Linked DNA regions of Homo sapiens. The protein of the gene in region 1 interacts with the protein of each later gene in a biochemical or structural test. Each region holds a gene or a part of one and is shown on either strand. Other genes may lie near its edges.

Region 1 (7,149 bases):
TCAACAGCAGAGATGCTGTTGAAACTCAATCCCAACCTGCAACAGAAAGCAGAAATGAAAGCAAACACCACACATGGATGCCTTTCTTACAAGCATTGTGTAGTTAATCAAGTCTATAGGAAAGGACATTTTTTGTTTTTGCACTTACTCTTCCCAGTTCTTGGAGTGCTTTCTCCAACCTCTCTGAGCCTGGACAAAGTCCATTTATTGTTAAGGTCTCGGCTCAAAGTTACTGTCTTTGAGATTCATCTGACAGAACGTGATTGGACATAGTCTCCTATTCCTTATAATATCCTAAGTTCCAACATCAAATTATGGTCAACCATAATATTGGAACATAATATTCCTAATAGTTTATTTTTAAAAACTGTTCACTTATTCAAACATTTATTTGTATATTTAATAAACAAATATTCTTGAAAACTTATGTGCATGATATTATGCTAGGCATTGTGAGGGACAGAGGTCTCATGGATCAAAAACCACTTTTCCCATCAAAGAATATTTTACCTAGTAAAGGAGTTGATTATACACACACACATGCATATATATATATATACACATTCAAAGATATATTTTATATTTATTTATCCACCATGAAATTTATATATAACAACAGGAATGAGTAAATCTGGCATGATAGTGTGCTTCTCTGTAGGGACAGTCAGCAATATGTACAGATCAAAAAGAACATAGTGTTCCTTGAAGACAAGTGAAAACGTTTGCCAGATTGAAGTTATGTTTGAAACCAGGACAAGTACTAGTATCACTTATTTTAAAAAAAATCATTAAGAAGGGCCAGCAAAAACAACAACAACAAAAGCTTTTCTTTTGTTGATCTACATTAAATGCCCAGAGATATTTTATTTTAAACTTTTCAGAGAAGAGGGGGTTAGAGAATCTCATAATTATTAAAATAGTAATTTGTGTGATGCTCAATATTTCTCTGTCTTGGTAGATTTCATTTTAATGGATTTTCAAATTCTAGCAACTGTGTTATAATTTACTTAACTTTCTGTTTGATGCAAATAAGTTAGAACATATTAAATGCACATATTGATTTAATCACACACTTTGTGTATAAAATATAACTAATCTATAAACAGTATAGTATTAATAAAATATGAAGCTGATCTTGGTGGTTTTAGTAAGGGCACTATTTCATTGGCTTCTTCTCAAGAAATAATTGGATATGCTGAAGTTTGAGATTATAGAAACAACAACAGCAGTGAAATGTAGTACACTCAAAAATCAATCATCATGTTTATAATTCTTATCATATAAGCACTAATATACCTAGCCATTGTTCTGATAGAATGTCATGAAAGAATATTATTACTTAGCCAAATTATTCAGTCCTTTCAGGCTAGCTGCATCAACTCTGCTGATTTTGTTGCCATCAAGATGTAATTCCGTAAGGGAAGGAGGAAGACCTGGAATGTGGAATTAAAGATGTTAAATTAGCAGATAAACATTATAAGTACAGAATGTGGACAAACTTAAAGAAGACATATGCCATCAATTTTCTAAAAGACACACAGTTTCAAAGAATCAGCTTTACTTTTATCTTTTTTTTTCATCCCTTTTATAATAATGTGTGCTTTTGGAAGTAGTGGAAGCCCTTGCTATTTTTCTCTTAGGTTGACTTTAACAAAAACCTGGATGATTTCTATCATGTAGTCAATTTTTGTTCTTGGAATAGAAGAACTGAAGTCAACGCTGAGTCTCATTATTCTCTTCCACCTTTGTTAATGGGCTAAAACTGACGTTGATAAAAGATAGTAATTATAAAGTGGGAAAGTCACTATTCGAACCATAATGAAGAGATTACGTATAAATTAAACCCATGTACAAACTTAATTGTCTATTTCATTAATGAGCATCATTAAAAATTAACACTGATATACTGTGCTGGTCTTAGCCTTAATTGACTTTTCCATAAAAGCATCAAATACCTCTGCAAAATGTCTGTGTAGAAACAGCTAACATTTACTTATGCCTATTAAATCCAGAATGTTTATGCAGAAGGAGTGGAGAGGTCTATAATCAAGTGATCTGCCATATGTGGAGCACCTGGGGTAATAATTTTACATCCAAAGTACCCACTAAACCTCTAGATAGTACTTGCATGGCTGTGATTTCCAAAGATCGAGTATTATAAATATAAAAGTTTAAATATTTTATTTTCATTTCCTCCTAGCATCTGAGGCTGTATTATATTTTATACAGCTTTTAAAATAACATATTGTTCCACTTAATAGCAATAGATACAGAGAAAATAGCAAATTGGTTAAGTGTAGAAAGAACATCTGATTGGCAGAAAGTCTTGGCTATTTGTCTATAAAGACACAGAATTGAAAAACCACAGGTTTCATTTTGTCTAAAATTTTTATCACATCACACTGAATTCTGTCAATATTGTCCATTTAATAAAATAGTTTAGTCCATATTTGACTTGAAAATGATTCTTAGTTTCCTATGGTAGCATATTTTGTGTTAGAGCTGCTAGGAAAAGGAACATCTATTTATTGTATGTCTGTTACGCACCGAACATTGACCTTGGCACTTTTCCTACTTCAAATCCTTTAAGCCTCTCAAAACATAAATTATTGGTCACTAATCCCTTTTCACAGTTAAATAAATAAGACTCAAAGTTACAAAGTAATTACAAAGTAATGCAAAATGTATATTTTTTAATGCAGTGCCTCCAGTACACCAATTGCTATCACAACCATCGGCCTTACTTAGTTTCAAAGTGTCTCCCTTTTTGGGATGTCAGTTTCCCAAATGTAAAGTTATAGCTAAGAAGAAGTTTGACTATGGGAGAAAACCTTGCAATAGGTTTGAGATAGACAAATTTGTAAAGTGCATCATTAGCTTCTGCAACTGTGGCATTGAGTTAAAGAACCCATACTCCAGTTATTTTATTTATTTGTTTGTTCATTTATTTTAAATTTTCTTTTTTCTTTTCCTTTTTTAAGATAAAATATATTGAGGTTTACATTGGGCCAAGTACTTGCGTGTACAATACAAGCCTTACTTCTATAGAGTAATCCTCACAATAATCCTAGTAGACAGGGTTATTAATAGCTCCATGTAACATCTAACAAACCTGAGGTTATAGAAATGCAGAATAATTATCCTAAAGTCACAGTACAACTAAATGACTGAGTTAGGTCTCTCACCCAGGTTGATCTAAGTGTATGATTTTTATAGTCTCTACACTACTTTCTACTGCCTTTCCATTTCCATGAGTGATGGGAGAAAATATCACCAGGAGGTTGCTGATATTCAGGCATAGGTATCCCAGCCTAAGCAAGGTGGAATCATGTATTAGATAAGCATAACGATGAATAGAAAGGAGGACTTAATATGCCAACAGAGTGAAATAGTTAAACACACGAGTTCTGACATCAGCACCACACAATTCCATCTCTGCCGCTTCCTAGCTCTAAGAACTTAATTACAATTTTCTTTACCTGTTTAAGCCTCATTTTCCACTTTTATGAAACAGGAATTATAACCCTACTATATAGGGACGTTGTAAGAATCATATAGAAGACTCCATGACAAGCATTTGGCATGATACCCGGAACTAAATACATGCTTAATAAATTGTAGTTACTTAACTTTTCTATTAAGCGGTAGTAAATAAAAGCAAGCTATAAATGATGAGGAAAGAATACCTGGGATAGATAGAAGACATAGCAAAGTAAAGGAAAAGAGATCATGAAATGATAAAAGGTATCAGTGAAGGATATTTTGGAGCATGCATTAAGAGGGACAGCAAAGTCTGAGATTGTGCTAAATGTAAGTCATCTGGCTGCATGAAATAAATTTCAGCAAGAATTTTAATAAGATCTATCTATCTATCTATCTATCTATCTATCTATCTATATCAATCCCCAATTTATATCTATCTGAGATATAAATATTTCATTCCTGCACTGGGGATAGCAAAAGATTACTTGTTACATGCAAAAAATTGGAGACTCAACATGAAAGTGCTTTATGAATTATAAATCAGTCTTTATCATCTATGTATCTATCTATGCCAGTAGTTGCTACTAAGGAAGTCAAAAGCATGCTCTGTATTCAAAAGACTAGGAGGAGGGCAAGGGGTGGTAAGAAAGCATCCTATGGAATATGTACTCTCAGGAGTTGAAATTTCTGTAAAAGAACAATAAAGGACAACTGGTGTTTTCTGTGGCCAAATGTCTACATTTTGTACGCACTCAAGAACAAGGCATCTAAGTTGAGAAAGGGACAGACTGAGGGGAAAACTAGATAATATAGAGGGCTTCTGTGAGACTGAAAAACCCAGAGTAGGGACGATGTGCAAGTTAGAGGAATTTATTATTGGTGGTTTGATGCCTTTTGTAATTCACAAAGACTGGCTTTTGTGCCTCTCCTGGGAATCCCTTGGAACAATGAACTTACCCTTGTGGCTATGTGGTCATTGCTGTGTATTTGTCTGGCTTGGTTTTAGAGAGTAAGCTCCTAAAGGCATGTAGCATATCCTGTTCCCTGCCCTGTCTTAAGTGTTTGGTACATCGCCTACACATACTGATTGTTCAGAACATTTTTAATGCATAATAGAGAGTTATATTAATTCCCTACTTATCTATATGCTAAATATTTCTCTAATTATTTATTTAACTTTAAAACAACTCAATGAAGTGGATAGCAGTATTATTTCCACTTGACAGATAAAGAGATAGAGGACAAATGAATAACTTTTTCAAAGTCTTTGAACCACTTTATGGTAATTTGGGCTCAAGCAAACTGACTCCAAAATCTACACTCTTCACAACACACAACTACCACTATCATTCAGATATTAATAACTGGAGTGTCTTAAAAAGGAAAAAAAAATTCCCTAAGCTATTGCAGACTCAAGATAAAAATTGGATCAATTTCAGAGGTACTCCCATATATCTTTTTTTTTTTTTTTACAAACACCAAGGCATGCTATTTTTTAAATAAATGTACTTTTTCTTTGTGATTTTACAATATTATAAAATCACTGTGCATTAAGTTGTGTCTTAAACTAGACATTAACAGGAGTCTACCCATCTCTACAGTGAGCCTGGATGGCCCCGTGGTCATCCAGACTGAATCACTGGATATAACACTAGCAGTAATAGAGAATTTGCTGGAAATATAAACACTGGATGAAACACTAGCAGTAATAGAGAATTTGCTGGAAATAAGGTTGGCCTCTTAGGTGACAATTCCAGTTTCCACAAGATTTTTTTTTTTTAATTAAAGCCTTTGAATTTAAATTTTTCAAAATGTTTTGGAGAATCTTCTATCACCTTGAGGAATGCTGGTGATATTGGTATCAGCAATGCGGATGTAGGAGAGCTTCTTCATTCCCTGGAAAGCCCCATTTTCAATTCCTGAGCTCTTCAGCGGATTGGTGCCCAGTTCTACAAATGTAATAAGTGCAAGGCTTTTAGAGGAAATTTTAGGATATTACTAGTCACTGTAGTATCTGTTTCAGCAAGCAACCTATAAAGAAATAGGGATTAATATCAACTTGACTAAAAAACAAAAGTGAAGTTAAAGAGCATGCTCCTCAGGAGAATAGCAAAATAGGATAAAAATTTCCCTTATTAAAACAAAAGCCAAACAGACAATGACTTATGAATAATAATGACTTATGAAAAAGACTATTAGTGAAAGCAATACCAATAAAATTATTTAAGATGCATACACAGGTTTGCCCAGAAATCAACTAAAGCAAGTTTACAATTCCCATCTTACGTTATTTATTATTTTCCTAAGGTATTTTAAAATTTTGTTAAAGAATTTCAATCTAGCATTTTATAAGCCAATAATAAAATTACAATTTTTACTATATGTTTAGAGAAATTTTTTTTTTTTTGAGACGTAGTCTCACTCTGTCACCCAGGCTGGAGTGCAGTGGGGCCATCTCGGCTCACTGCAAGCTCCGCCTCCCGGGTTCACGCCATTCTCCTGCCTCAGCCTCCCGAGTAGCTGGTACTACAGGCCCCCACCACCACGCCCGGCTAATTTTTTGTATTTTTAGTAGAGATGGGGTTTCACCATGTTAGCCAGGATGGTCTCGATCTCCTGACCTCGTGATCCGCCTGCTTCGGCCTCCCAAAGTGCTGGGATTACAGGCATGAGCCACCGCGCCCAGCCATAACATATTTTTAAAGCAAATGATTTATGAGTGTTTAGAATACAACAGGTCCCCAAAACGGAAAGGTATCTCAAAATATCTGTAGTTAAGCACTATTTAAACTCATCTTTGCATATTGTGTGTGTGGTAGGGTAACTTCAGCCCTAGGGTTTTCTCCATATTCTCAGATACTCAAGGACATACATAAAAACATCACTGTAAGGTCCAGATTCAAAATCCCAATTTCTCTTGGCCCTGTTCTTATAAATCACATAGGCTCCAGGCATGTAGCTTGTAGCTAATTTACCTTCCTGCACTTAAAACCCAGTTGAAATCTCTTAAGATAAAAACTTGAGTTTTGGTCTTAAAGTTATAAAAATGTCTGTACCTATGACAATCATCTGGTTCAGTCCATTGAAAGTAACTTTTCGCACTTTGGTGATCTCATTCTCATGGGCACGCAGCTCCTGAAGAGTTTTGGGCATTTTTTCTGGCAATTCCTTCAGCTGATTCTTGGACAGATAAAGTCGTTCCAACTTCACCAAAGGTGTAAATGCTCCAGGACTAACTTTGCTAATTTTATTGTTGACAAGAATCAATGCCTGTAGATAGTGAAGAAAAACATCTCTTTAAATCCAAAACCTTCCACATACATGTAAAACAAGGGCATGTTTGTTCATTCCATTCATAGGGATAGCAGAGAAATCTAAAAAATTGCAAGAAATCAGAAAAAAATTAAGTAAGTATTATTTCTTTACTTAAGAAGTGTATAGGCCAGGTGCGGTGGCTCATGCCTGTAATCCCAGCACTTTGGGAGGCTGAGGTGGGAGGATCACTTGAGGCCAGGAGTTCGAGACAAGCCTGGCCAGCATGGCGAAATCCCGTCTGTATCAAAAATACAAAAATTAGCTGGGCGTGGTGGTGGGTGCCGGTAGTCCCGGCTACTTGGGAGGCTGAGACAGGAGGATCACTTGAACCTGGGAGGCAGAGGTTGCAGT
Region 2 (7,000 bases), on another chromosome or scaffold:
TGTGTAAGCTCTGAAACAGTGGAAGGCCTGATAAATTCTATTTCATTTCTGATGACCACCATATGTACAAGTTAAAAGATTGAAGTTTCTTTTCCAGGATTAATACCAGGGAGCAATTTAGCCACTAAAGCAAATAGAACTAAAAGGGAAGCTTTCTTAGGCCCCTATTTTGTTAATTTCCTCAAGATACTTGGAAAATAATATTTAAAAAAAAAATGAATATGGCACTCTTGTTTTTTATAGTTAATGAAAACAGCCAAATAGAAAAGCTAAGAGTTTTGGAAATTACTGGAAAAGTTTTAAGATCTGTTATTTCCATGGTTTCCCTAATTTATGATATTGGTGAATGCTGGAAACAGAAATGGAAGGCCACCCTGGACTGATGGGCCCCAGTTTTCCTTCTTTCCTGTGCTTTCCTAAAGCAAAAGATTCCTCAAAGAGTCTTCTACACCCCTGGGAGATACTTGGGTTTTGGCTTTCTTGCCTTCTCATTTCCCTAACAAAACCTCCTTCCTCGGTTTACAGAGGAAGTTCCAGCCCAGCAATACTTAGAAATTGATGAGGTGACGACAGACAGTTTTAGGGTGACCTGGCATCCCCTCTCAGCTGATGAAGGGCTACACAAATTGATGTGGATTCCAGTCTATGGGGGGAAGACTGAGGAGGTGAGTTTTCTGAAACAGACTGAAAATTAATCTGGAGCATTAGTGAATACCTACTGCTGCTGGAGTTGGTCTTCACTTTAAAATATATTAGGAATCCCAGAAGTAATTAGTATTTTACATGGCTTGGAGTTTTAGAAATGTCAAATCATAAGATTTTCCTAATATTATGATGTATTGTTGCCAGAGCTTTAGTTATATATTTATATATTTTCAGATTCTTTGACTTTAATAAATGACATTTAATACAACTTTAAAATGTCACTTTTGCAATATTAATAATTTATTTGCTGAGGGGATTGAAAGGAATAAAGTCTCTGGCTTGACCTTAAAATGGACTTCGACAGCCTTGGAGTTCTTTATGATTGGTTGTTTCTTGCTTATGCTCAGAATAACACTTTTTCTTTACTTTTTTTTCAAATAAGCATAGTTACTAAGCACCAAAATATATTTCAGGTTGTCCTGAAAGAAGAGCAGGACTCACATGTTATTGAAGGCCTGGAGCCCGGTACGGAGTATGAAGTTTCACTATTGGCCGTACTTGATGATGGAAGCGAGAGTGAGGTGGTGACTGCTGTCGGGACCACACGTAAGTCTTGGTCTGGCCACAGTGCGTTTTAGCTGCTCCCACAATCCCTCTTTACCCCATCAATTTCCTTCCCCATCTGCTTTATCTTTGGCTATGTAAGCTTCAATTTCTCTTTGTCCCCCAGAATTCTTCATATATCTTCACTTTCAATGAAACCAGTATGTGAAGCATCTTAGCTTCCTAGATAATGATCAACATGAAGGCAGGGACCATATCTGTGTTGCTCACCATTATATTTTCCAGGACTTAGCACAGTACTTGGCACATGTTAACTGTAGAGTAAACACCCATCAAATGGATGGATGGATAGATGAATGGATGTATGCAAGAATGGATAAAATAATTTACAAATGAATAGATTGCCAAACAAATAAACCTAGGGCCAACATGTCAAAGAGTTTCTGGAATTTTCCAAGTTGATATTGGTTCCAAGAGTCTTGTACAAAATTTACTTGCTGATTCATTCATCTCTTCATTTTTAAAATATGAGGTATTGACCACATATTAAATTGCCTTTGCCTGGGTTCCCTGGAACCAGATTCTAGACAGAAATTGCAGCCAGAAAGTTTATTGAAGAGTGCAGTTGGGAGATGCTTACGTAAAAAACTGAGGACAGCAGGAGGGGGCATGGGAAGAAGTTGAAACTGAACCCTCAGCTAATCTTATTATAATGGAGGTCTAGTGCTGGGATGACCCTTCTGAGTTGTCCCAAATTGAGACAAAGGGGCTGAGACTTCATACCCTTGCATCCCCAGTCGCTGGAGGTGAGCCATTCCCTGACAGAGGCCATGAACTCAGGCGAGACAGTTCCCAGAGCTGTGAACTGTTGGCAGGCAGTGTTCCAGCACCAAGTGGATTGGTGTGTTGACCCTAAAAAGAGGATCTGGGAAGAGCACCACATCTGTACTTCATTCTGCTATATGCCCACGGTGGCTGTAAGAAATAGAAGATGCATTGCTTGTCCAAGCACATTGCATTCCGTGGTGGTCCTGTTTGGCAGCCTTTTCACAACTTGGTCTACAGCACTGTCTAATTTCCCTTAATTACCATGGCTGTGCCCCTATTTCAAAGTAATTGGGTGGTTTCACAATTCTGTAGATGTAGTTCAAATGTTTATATGAAGCCTGGTATCTGTGATGAGAAACTTTAACATTCTTTGGGTTTCAGTTTTCTTATCTGTGGCACAGGTATGTCTGCCTTACTTACAATTCATTTCTTTCGTCTTCTAACCATTGTCATGTTTGTTGTGGGAGGCAAGTGAGATAATATAGGTGAAATGTTCTTTGAAAGCTACAACATGCTATAGAAAAATGGACAGTTGTTTTTGCAGCATTTTAAAGTAATATATTGCTTTTAGTTGACAGTTTTTGGACAGAACCAGCTACAACCATAGTGCCTACCACATCTGTGACTTCAGGTAAGGTCAAATAGTAGCCTGCTTAACCACTTTAAAAATTTTCTTTAAACAGATGTTATATTATCCTGGTTTTATTTATTATTAACTAGGAAAAGAGATGACCCTCCCTTCCTTTTCTGGCACACTGGTTCAAATTTCACGCCTCTCAGAGCCTCTCAACACCTTCCTTGCCACTAAATGCCCATGGATCTCCTAGTCAACTGATCTCACTGATACATCACTCTACCTCTTTCATCTTTGTCTGGATGCTCATGCACCTTACCTGGGATGTTAACGTAGCTGCCTCCCCAGGGGTCTTTGCCCTCCTCTTTTTTTTTTCTTTTTATTTTATTTTATTTTATTTTATTTATTATTATTATACTTTAAGTTTTAGGGTACATGTGCACAATTTGCAGGTTAGTTACATATGTATACATGTGCCATGCTGGTGCACTGCACACACTAACTCGTCATCTAGCATTAGGTATATCTCCCAATGCTATCCCTCCCCCCTCCCCCCACCCCACAACAGTCCCCAGAGTCTGATGTTCCCCTTCCTGTGTCCATGTGTTCTCATCGTTCAGTTCCCACCTATGAGTGAGAATATGTGGTGTTTGGTTTTTTGTCCTTGCGATAGTTTACTGAGAATGATGATTTCCAATTTCATCCATGTCCCTACAAAGGACATGAACTCATCATGTTTTATGGCTGCATAGTATTCCATGGTGTATATATGCCACATTTTCTTAATCCAGTCTATCATTGTTGGACATTTGGGTTGGTTCCAAGTCTTTGCTATCGTGAATAGTGCCACAATAAACATACATGTGCACGTGTCTTTATAGCAGCATGATTTATAGTCCTTTGGGTATATACCCAGTAATGGGATGGCTGGGTCAAATGGTATTGCTAGTTCTAGATCCCTGAGGAATCGCCACACTGTCTTCCACAATGATTGAACTAGTTTACAGTCCCACCAACAGTGTAAAAGTGTTCCTATTTCTCCACATCCTCTCCAGCACCTGTTGTTTCCTGACTTTTTAATGATTGCCATTCTAACTGGTGTGAGATGGTATCTCATTGTGGTTTTGATTTGCACTTCTGTTGCTCTCTGTTGAGAATTCCCCTTCTTTTCTCTTTTTTTCTTTTAGAGACAGGGTTTCATTCTGTCATCCAGGCTGGAGTGCAGCACCACGATCAAGGCTCACCACAGCCTTGACTTCCTGGGCTCATGTGATCCTCCAGCCTCAGCCCCCCACGTAGCTGGGACTACAGACATGTGTCATCGTGCCTGGCTAATCGTTTTGAATTTTAGTAGAGATGAGGTCTTTCCATATTACCCAGGCTGGTCTTTAACTCCTGAGCTCAAATGTTCCTTCATCCTTGGCCTCCCAAAGTTCTGGAATTGCAGGCATGAGCCACCATGCCTGGCCTTGTTGAGAATTATTCTTACCATGTTTTCCTTGCATTTCTGTGGGTAACTGACACTTGGCTGGTCTATTGTTTTTCCTACATTAGTTGTTTCCTCTCTCAGCTTAGCTTTCCCCTTCACTGTAATACACCTCCCAACTAGCTGTCAGAGTCAACTTGGTAAAACACAAGTTTGATAATATCATTTATTTACTTCTCTAAGACACTTCAATGGCTCTCCATTACCCATTTGTTGATTTGTTCATTCTTCATTTAATCCTTATCAAGCCTTCTTTGTGCTTTAAAGTCTTTTTCACAGCATCCAAGATCCTTCCTAGTTGGGTCCTGCTTCCCTTCCTGGCCTCAACCATATTTCCTATGCTTCCCCCGTTTTTCTCTTGCAATCCCGAACTCCTTTCCCTAAATGTGAGAAGTTCCCTCCCATTCCCATTGCCTGGTAGCCCCCCTGCAATGTTGCCAGGTAAATGTCAACCCCCTCCTCCTCTGTGACACTTTTACTATTTTTGTTGAGTTAATAACTATATAAAAACCAAAGCCCTAACAGTCTGACACACAGAAAAAGTTCAATGAATATTTTCTAAATGAATTAATAGATGAATGAAGAGAAAGGAGAATGAGAAAAGATGGACAAAGGGAAATGAAGTTAGGGTAGAAGAGAAAAGAAAAAAATGCAACAAATAAGGGAGCAGGCACCTTGAGAGATGAGCACGAATGTGCCAGGAAACACAGGTAAAGGAGTTTGGACAAGTACCAGAGAAAAGATCGTGTCTGTGTGGGCTGAATGGATAAAGGCAGCCTGAGCGCAGATTTGTGCTTTGAATGACAGGTGTTAAAAGAGAAATGGAGGTGAGGGCAGGTGATTGGGATGTGTGTTGGATGCTGGATTGCACACAGAGGTGGACAAAGTCTGGCCCACTGTGCCCACTTGTCCACAGAGCACTAGTGTGAGGTTCTCATGACCACTCTTTCCTTTGGGTTCCATGGGCTGTTTTTCTAGTCTCAGGGCTTCTTCCCAGTTCTCTTTACTAGTGCACATACAGAACTGACAGTTTTGAGGGCTCCATGGTCTCATCTTGTAAGCATCTCTTAATTCCACTTTTATTTGCTGCTAGTAGGTATCATGCCTCCCCATTAAGCACCATAGCTGAGCCCTTCTTGCCTCATATACAACTATATTACAGGGATACATTAAATGATGCTTGCTGTCACCCCACAGGTATTCTCTGTGGCTCATTTTGGAATATGATATGTTAAAAGTTTTTTAATCCTTGGTTGTGTTTATTCCAGTTTTCCAGACGGGAATCAGAAACCTAGTTGTAGGTGATGAAACTACTTCTAGCCTGCGGGTAAAATGGGACATTTCTGACAGCGATGTGCAGCAGTTTAGGGTGACCTACATGACAGCTCAAGGGGACCCTGAGGAAGAAGTCATAGGAACGGTCTGTATAAATTCAACTGACTAGAAACTCTGCAGATGTTACTAACACAGCTAATAAGACTGTCTTCGGAGATCAATGCAAACTTTACTGCTCTTTTCTCAGTGACTCTGCCATCTCCAGAAACTAATGTTCTCTGTTAATCTGACTCCACTACTGGCTTCTTAGTGACCTTTATAAATCCAAAACTTGCTCCATGTACAACTTGCTCCAAGTTAATAACCTCTGAACATTGTTTCAAATATTGCTTCTCTTCTGCTGCCTTGCACCTGTTCGAGCACCAAAGTTGGGTCATAAAAGGCCATATGCACTTGTGTCTGTATATATGTATGTATAGACATGTATAAAAGTTTAATATAGAAAATAATTTCTTCTGCCCTTGGAAATCTGATAAAAAAACTTTTAAGCAAAGGACACAGAAAAGGTCTTCTATATGGTATAGTGAAAATATTCTTAATAAAATACCATCCGTTAACCAATAGTTATATTTTTCATTGACATCAACTCGTATTGAGTAGATTTATAGTCATTTCTAATTATTCGTAACATGGATGTATCCCCTCAGGGATTTAGATTTTTATACATTGAGTTTTCTTTGAGTTGTTTTATCTATCTTTCCTTTTTCTAAATGATACACTCTTTTTTTCTAATTTATTTATCTTTTTTTAATATACTTAAGTTCTGGGATACATGTGCAGAACATGCAGGTTTTTTACATAGGTATACATGGACCATGGTAGTTTGCTGCACCCATCAACCCGTCATCTACATTAAGTATTTCTCCTAATGCTATCCCTCCCCTTGCCCCACAACCCCAACAGGACCCAGTGTGTAATGTTCCCCTCCCTGTGTCCATGTGTTCTCATTGTTCAACTCCCACTTATGAGTGAGAACATGTAGTGTTTGGTTGCCTGTTCCTGTGTTAGTTTGCAGAGAATGATGGTTTCCAGCTTCATCCATGTCCCTGCAAAGGACATGAACTCATCCTTTTTTATGGCTGCATAGTATTCCATGGTGTATATGTGCCACATTTTCTTTATCCAGTCTATCATTGATGGGCATTTGGGCTGGTTCCAAGTCTTTGCTATTGTGAGTAGTGCTGCAATAAACATGTGTGGATGTATTGTTATAGTAGAATGATTTATAATGCTTTGGGTATACACCCAGTAATGGGATTGCTGGGTCAAATGGTATTTCTAGTTCTAGGTCTTTGAGGAATCGCTACACTGCCTTCCACAATGGTTGAGCTAATTTACAGTCTCACCAACAGTGTAAAAGTGTTCCTATTTCTCCACATCCTCTCTAGCATCTGTTGTTTCCTGACTTTTTAATGATTGCCGTTCTAACTGGCATGAGATGATATCTCATTGTGGTTTTGATTTGAGTTTTTCTAATGACCAACGATGATGAGCTTTTTTTCATATGTTTGTTGGCTGCATAAATGTATTCTTTTGAGAAAGTGACTGTTAATATCCTTCTCCCACTT
Region 3 (4,235 bases), on another chromosome or scaffold:
GACTGTCTTCTGCATTTTCTTAGGTCAGCCATCTTTCCTCTCTGTCTCTTTCTGTTTCTCTCTCTCTCTCTCTCGAGACAGGATCTTGCTGTCTCACCCAGGCTGGAGTGCAGTGGCGCAATCATAGCTCACTGCAGCCTCGAAATCCTGGGCTCAAGCGATCCTCCCACCTCAGCCTCCTGAGTAGCTGGGACCACAGGCATGCACCACCACCAATCTTGGGTAATTTTTTTTTTTTTTGTAGCTATATGGTACAAAGTGATTCTCCACTGGACAGCTATGTTGTCCAGGTGGGTCTCAAACTCCTGGCCTCATTGTTAAAGTACAAGCCAAACTTGGAGAAAGATCGATGCCCCAGAAGCCAGCAGCAGGGGCTTTTGGTTGGGCAACCTCTCAAATACACTGTGGGTGGTGGAGGTTCCCTGAAGCAGAGCCCTTATCCCCATCCAGGCCAGCGAGTTGAAGGCAGATTAAATCATACGAAGGAAGCTAAGACACAGTTTCCTTTAAAGGTTTTTCATTTATTAGTCATTTCTGAAGCAGTTAATTCTCTTTTCTTATTAAAAAAAAAGGTGTGTTTCATCCAGAGTTATATTAGAGTGATTAAAATGTTTTTTCTACTGGGGATACAGCTCCCCGGATCAGAAAAAAAAATTATCTTTTTTTTTCAATGAACCACAACAATAAAACCAAAAGAGAATATCAACAATCAAAAATAATCCCCAAATATCCAGGACAAAAAATAAAATATTTATTGATCTATCACAGCGAGACACAAAAAGATGGGCGGGGCAGGAATGGGAACTGCTCTGAAGTTCAGTGGACCGAGGGAGGGATGGGGGGTATACAGTACTGCATGTGGGGACACCCCGGGTGGGGAGGAGATGCCTGGCACCCCAGTCTGCACAGCCCCGCACGCCCTGGGGGAGTGTAGGATGGGGGTGGAGGCAGGGCACAGGCGGCCATGACAGGTCAACCAGGTTGATGGTGGGTGCACCCAGCCAGCTAGTGGTGCCGGGCGGTCAACTGGGGACATGGATGGACGGACCGATGGATGAATGGACGGATGGGCGGATGGATTCTACAAGGGCAAGGTGGCTATTCCCAGTGTGGGGTGGTTTTCCAACCCAAAAGCGCCCCAGATGTGGGGAACAGCGATCGGTGGGGAGGAGACGGCCAAGTGGACCCAGGAGAGGAGGGATGCTAGAGCGAATCCAGCTTTGAGGCTTCAGGTGCTTGGGTACCAACTGGATGGCAGCCAACGGTGGGTCCTGGTGGGCAGGGGGAGCTGGGACTGCCCAGGAAGTGTCTGCACCATCTTTAGAGGAGCCCCAGGTAGGGGGTTCCCCGAGGGGCCACCCTTCCCTCCTCCCTCCCCCCAGGAAGATAAGAGCACCAGCGTGTAGCACCAAGTTCCCCTGGAGATGGAGGCTGTGTGGAGGGGGAGCTCCTAGGTGGGAAGGGATGGGGTGGGGGGCCAGGACCACATGGCCCTTGCCTCTGAAGTAGGGGGCCTCCTGGTCGGGGCACTTGGCCGCTCCCCTCTTGTTTCCTTGCCCTGTGGATCTGCAAGGCCGCCCGGCCTGCCCGTTCCCTCCTGGGGTGGGGAGTCGGAGGGGCATGGGATGGGGTTACAAAGGGTTTACATTCTCCACCAAGCAGTAGCACCAACGTTGATGAGGTCGTGAGTCAGGGGTCCTAGGAAGCTCATTTTCTCTTCCGGCCACAAGCTTTCCCCAGGCAGGCCCCACCTGGACGGGAGGAGGTGCACATCACTGTGAGTCCGGCCCCTCTCAGTTTCGGCTCTAATCCCCGCCTGCTCTGACCCACTCGAATGGAGGCTCCAAGAAGCCAAGAGAAGCCAAGTCATGGCCCCAGGCCAAACTCAGACCTGATCCATGCCATCAACTTCCACTGGACAGATGGGGCGGGAGAAGCCCCCAAGATATTACTTGGATGAAACCAACGCTCGCAGAAAAGGGGGCAGGTCATGGGGCCTGGCTGGGGAAGGACGGGGCCTGGCACTGGCTCCTGGCTCCACTGCTCCAAGAAGCCTTTCGGGGAAAGGCTAAGAGCAGCTCCATCAAGGAACATGGGATGAAGGGAGAGTCAGTGTCTGCAGGAGACGGCCCTCTCAGGGAGTGGGGTGGACCCATACATCTGAGAGGGCATCAGATAAGTAAATCAAGGCCCAGTAGAGGGAGAGAGGGTCTTATCCACATAGTGTCTGAGCTGGGACTCAAACCCAGGATTCCTACCCCCTCCTGGGAATAGTCTGATGGGTGAACCCTGTTTCAAGGCATCAGTCTGTATTAGGTAAGGCACCATTGTCTAGTAGCGCGGCCCGGAGCAGTTCCTAACCCTGCTTGAGCCAGATATGGCTCCTTACCGCCACCTGGTGGCAGTGAGCAGAGAGTGGGGCAGGAACAGACATCTGCCTCTGAAGGTTTTTTTTTTTTTTTTTTTTTTTTTTTGAGACGCAATCGTCTTGCCCTGTCATCACCCAGGCTAGAGGGCAGTGGTGTAGTCTCAGCTCACTGCAACCTCCGCCTCCTGGGTTCAAGCAATTCTCCTGTCTCAGCCTCCAGAGTAGCTGGGATTACAGGCGTGCACCACCACACCTGGCTAATTTTTTTTTTTTTTTTGAGACGGAGTCTTGCTGTGCCGCCCAGGCTGGAGTGCAGTGGCGCAATCTCGGCTCACTGCAAGCTCCGCCTCCCGGGTTCACACCATGCTCCGCCTCCCGGGTTCACACCATTCTCCTGCGTGAGCCTCCCGAGTAGCTGAGACTACAGGTGCCCGCCACCATGCCCGGCTAATTTTTTGTATTTTTAGTAGAGACGGCCGGACGTGGTGGCTCACTCCTGTAATCCCAGCACTTTGGGAGGCCGAGGCGGGCGGATCACGAGGTCAGGAGTTCGAGACCAGCCTGGCCAATATGGTGAAACCCCGTCTCTACTAAAAATACAAAAATTAGCTGGGCGTAGTGGTGTATGCCTGTAGTCCCAGCTACTTGGGAGGCTGAGGCAGAAGAATCGCTTGAACCTAGGAGGCAGAGGTTGCAGTGAGCCAAGATCGTGCCACTGCACTCCAGCCTGGGCAACAGAGCAAGACTCCATCTCAAAAAAAAAAAGAAGACTATAGTATTTTTAGTAGAGACGGGGTTTCACCGTTTCAGCCAGGATGGTTTCCATCTCCTGACCTCGTGATCCACCTGCCTTGGCCTCCCAAAGGGCTGGGATTACAGGCGTGAGCCACCACACCCGGCTAATTTTAGTATTTTTAATAGAGACAGGGTTTCGCCATGTTGGCCAGGCTGGTCTTGAACTCCTGACCTCAGGTGATCTGCCCTCCTCAGCCTCCCAAAGTGCTGGGATTACAGGTGTGAGCCATCACACCTGGCCATGAACTGTGTTTTTAAAAAGCAAATGTTCCCTGTGTTTATAAGAGGTCAGCAAGAAGGAGGGGAGGCTCTACATTCAGCTCGGGGTCCAGCCTCGTGTGACCTGAGGCTGTGGGGTCCACCCCTGGGTGCTGGCTCAGCCCTTCTGAGCAGGAGATGGCACAGGAGAGGAGGGAGGAGGTGGCTGCAGCTCCAGGGCAGGGCCCAGGGGCAGGGAGCCTGGCATACCTGGGAAAATGGGAGACAATCCGAAGCCAGGTCTTGCTGCCACTCCTGCAGGAGAGATTTCAGGTTGGTGGGTTGGTAGGGGTGGAAACTGACTCCAGCCTCATCACTTTCTGCCTGCACTGGCTCACCCAAGACCTCTGTCTGGGATCACCTCCTCTCCATCCCCCCCACTATATAATTTTTTATATTTTATTTTATTATTATTTTTTTGAGATGGGGTCTTGCTCTGTCACCCAGGCTGGAGTGCAGTGGTGCGATCTTGGCTCACTGCAACCTCCGCTTCCCAGGCTCCAGTGATTCTCCCGCCTCAGCCTCCCGAGTAGCTGGGATTACAGGCGTCCACCACGTTTGGCTAATTTTTGCATTTTTTTTAGTAGAGACAGGGTTTCACCATGTTGACCAGACTGGTCTCGAACTCCTGACCTCAAGTGATCCACCCACCTAGGCCTCCCAAAGTGCTGGGATTACAGGCGTGAGCCACCACGCCCAGCCAATCCCCCTCACTACAGCCAGAGTGGCTTTCTCAACACAACATGCCGCCACCTAGCAACCAGGTGTGGCACCTCATGGCCTCAACCCTGAGCTCAGCCTGGCACTGTCCCCA

The links. The genes of interacting proteins can lie anywhere in the genome.
Region 2: the proteins of DCN (region 1) and COL14A1 form a complex in vitro, tested with the Homo sapiens proteins (one study listed by BioGRID).
Region 3: the proteins of DCN (region 1) and ELN form a complex in vitro, tested with the Homo sapiens proteins (one study listed by BioGRID).

What each region holds. Positions count from the first base shown.
Region 1 is NC_000012.12:91,151,757-91,158,905, forward strand, and holds part of DCN (decorin isoform a preproprotein), read right to left. Parts: intron 6,754-7,149; coding exon 6,540-6,753; intron 5,433-6,539; coding exon 5,319-5,432; intron 1,434-5,318; coding exon 1,340-1,433; intron 37-1,339; coding exon 1-36. UniProt on the Homo sapiens protein: May affect the rate of fibrils formation.
Region 2 is NC_000008.11:120,226,102-120,233,101, forward strand, and holds part of COL14A1 (collagen alpha-1(XIV) chain isoform 1 precursor), read left to right. Parts: intron 1-525; coding exon 526-665; intron 666-1,118; coding exon 1,119-1,251; intron 1,252-2,608; coding exon 2,609-2,668; intron 2,669-5,365; coding exon 5,366-5,517; intron 5,518-7,000. UniProt on the Homo sapiens protein: Plays an adhesive role by integrating collagen bundles. It is probably associated with the surface of interstitial collagen fibrils via COL1.
Region 3 is NC_000007.14:74,066,173-74,070,407, reverse strand, and holds the end of ELN (elastin isoform a precursor), read right to left. Parts: intron 3,677-4,235; coding exon 3,632-3,676; intron 1,752-3,631; coding exon 1,708-1,751; 3' UTR 501-1,707; downstream 1-500. UniProt on the Homo sapiens protein: Major structural protein of tissues such as aorta and nuchal ligament, which must expand rapidly and recover completely.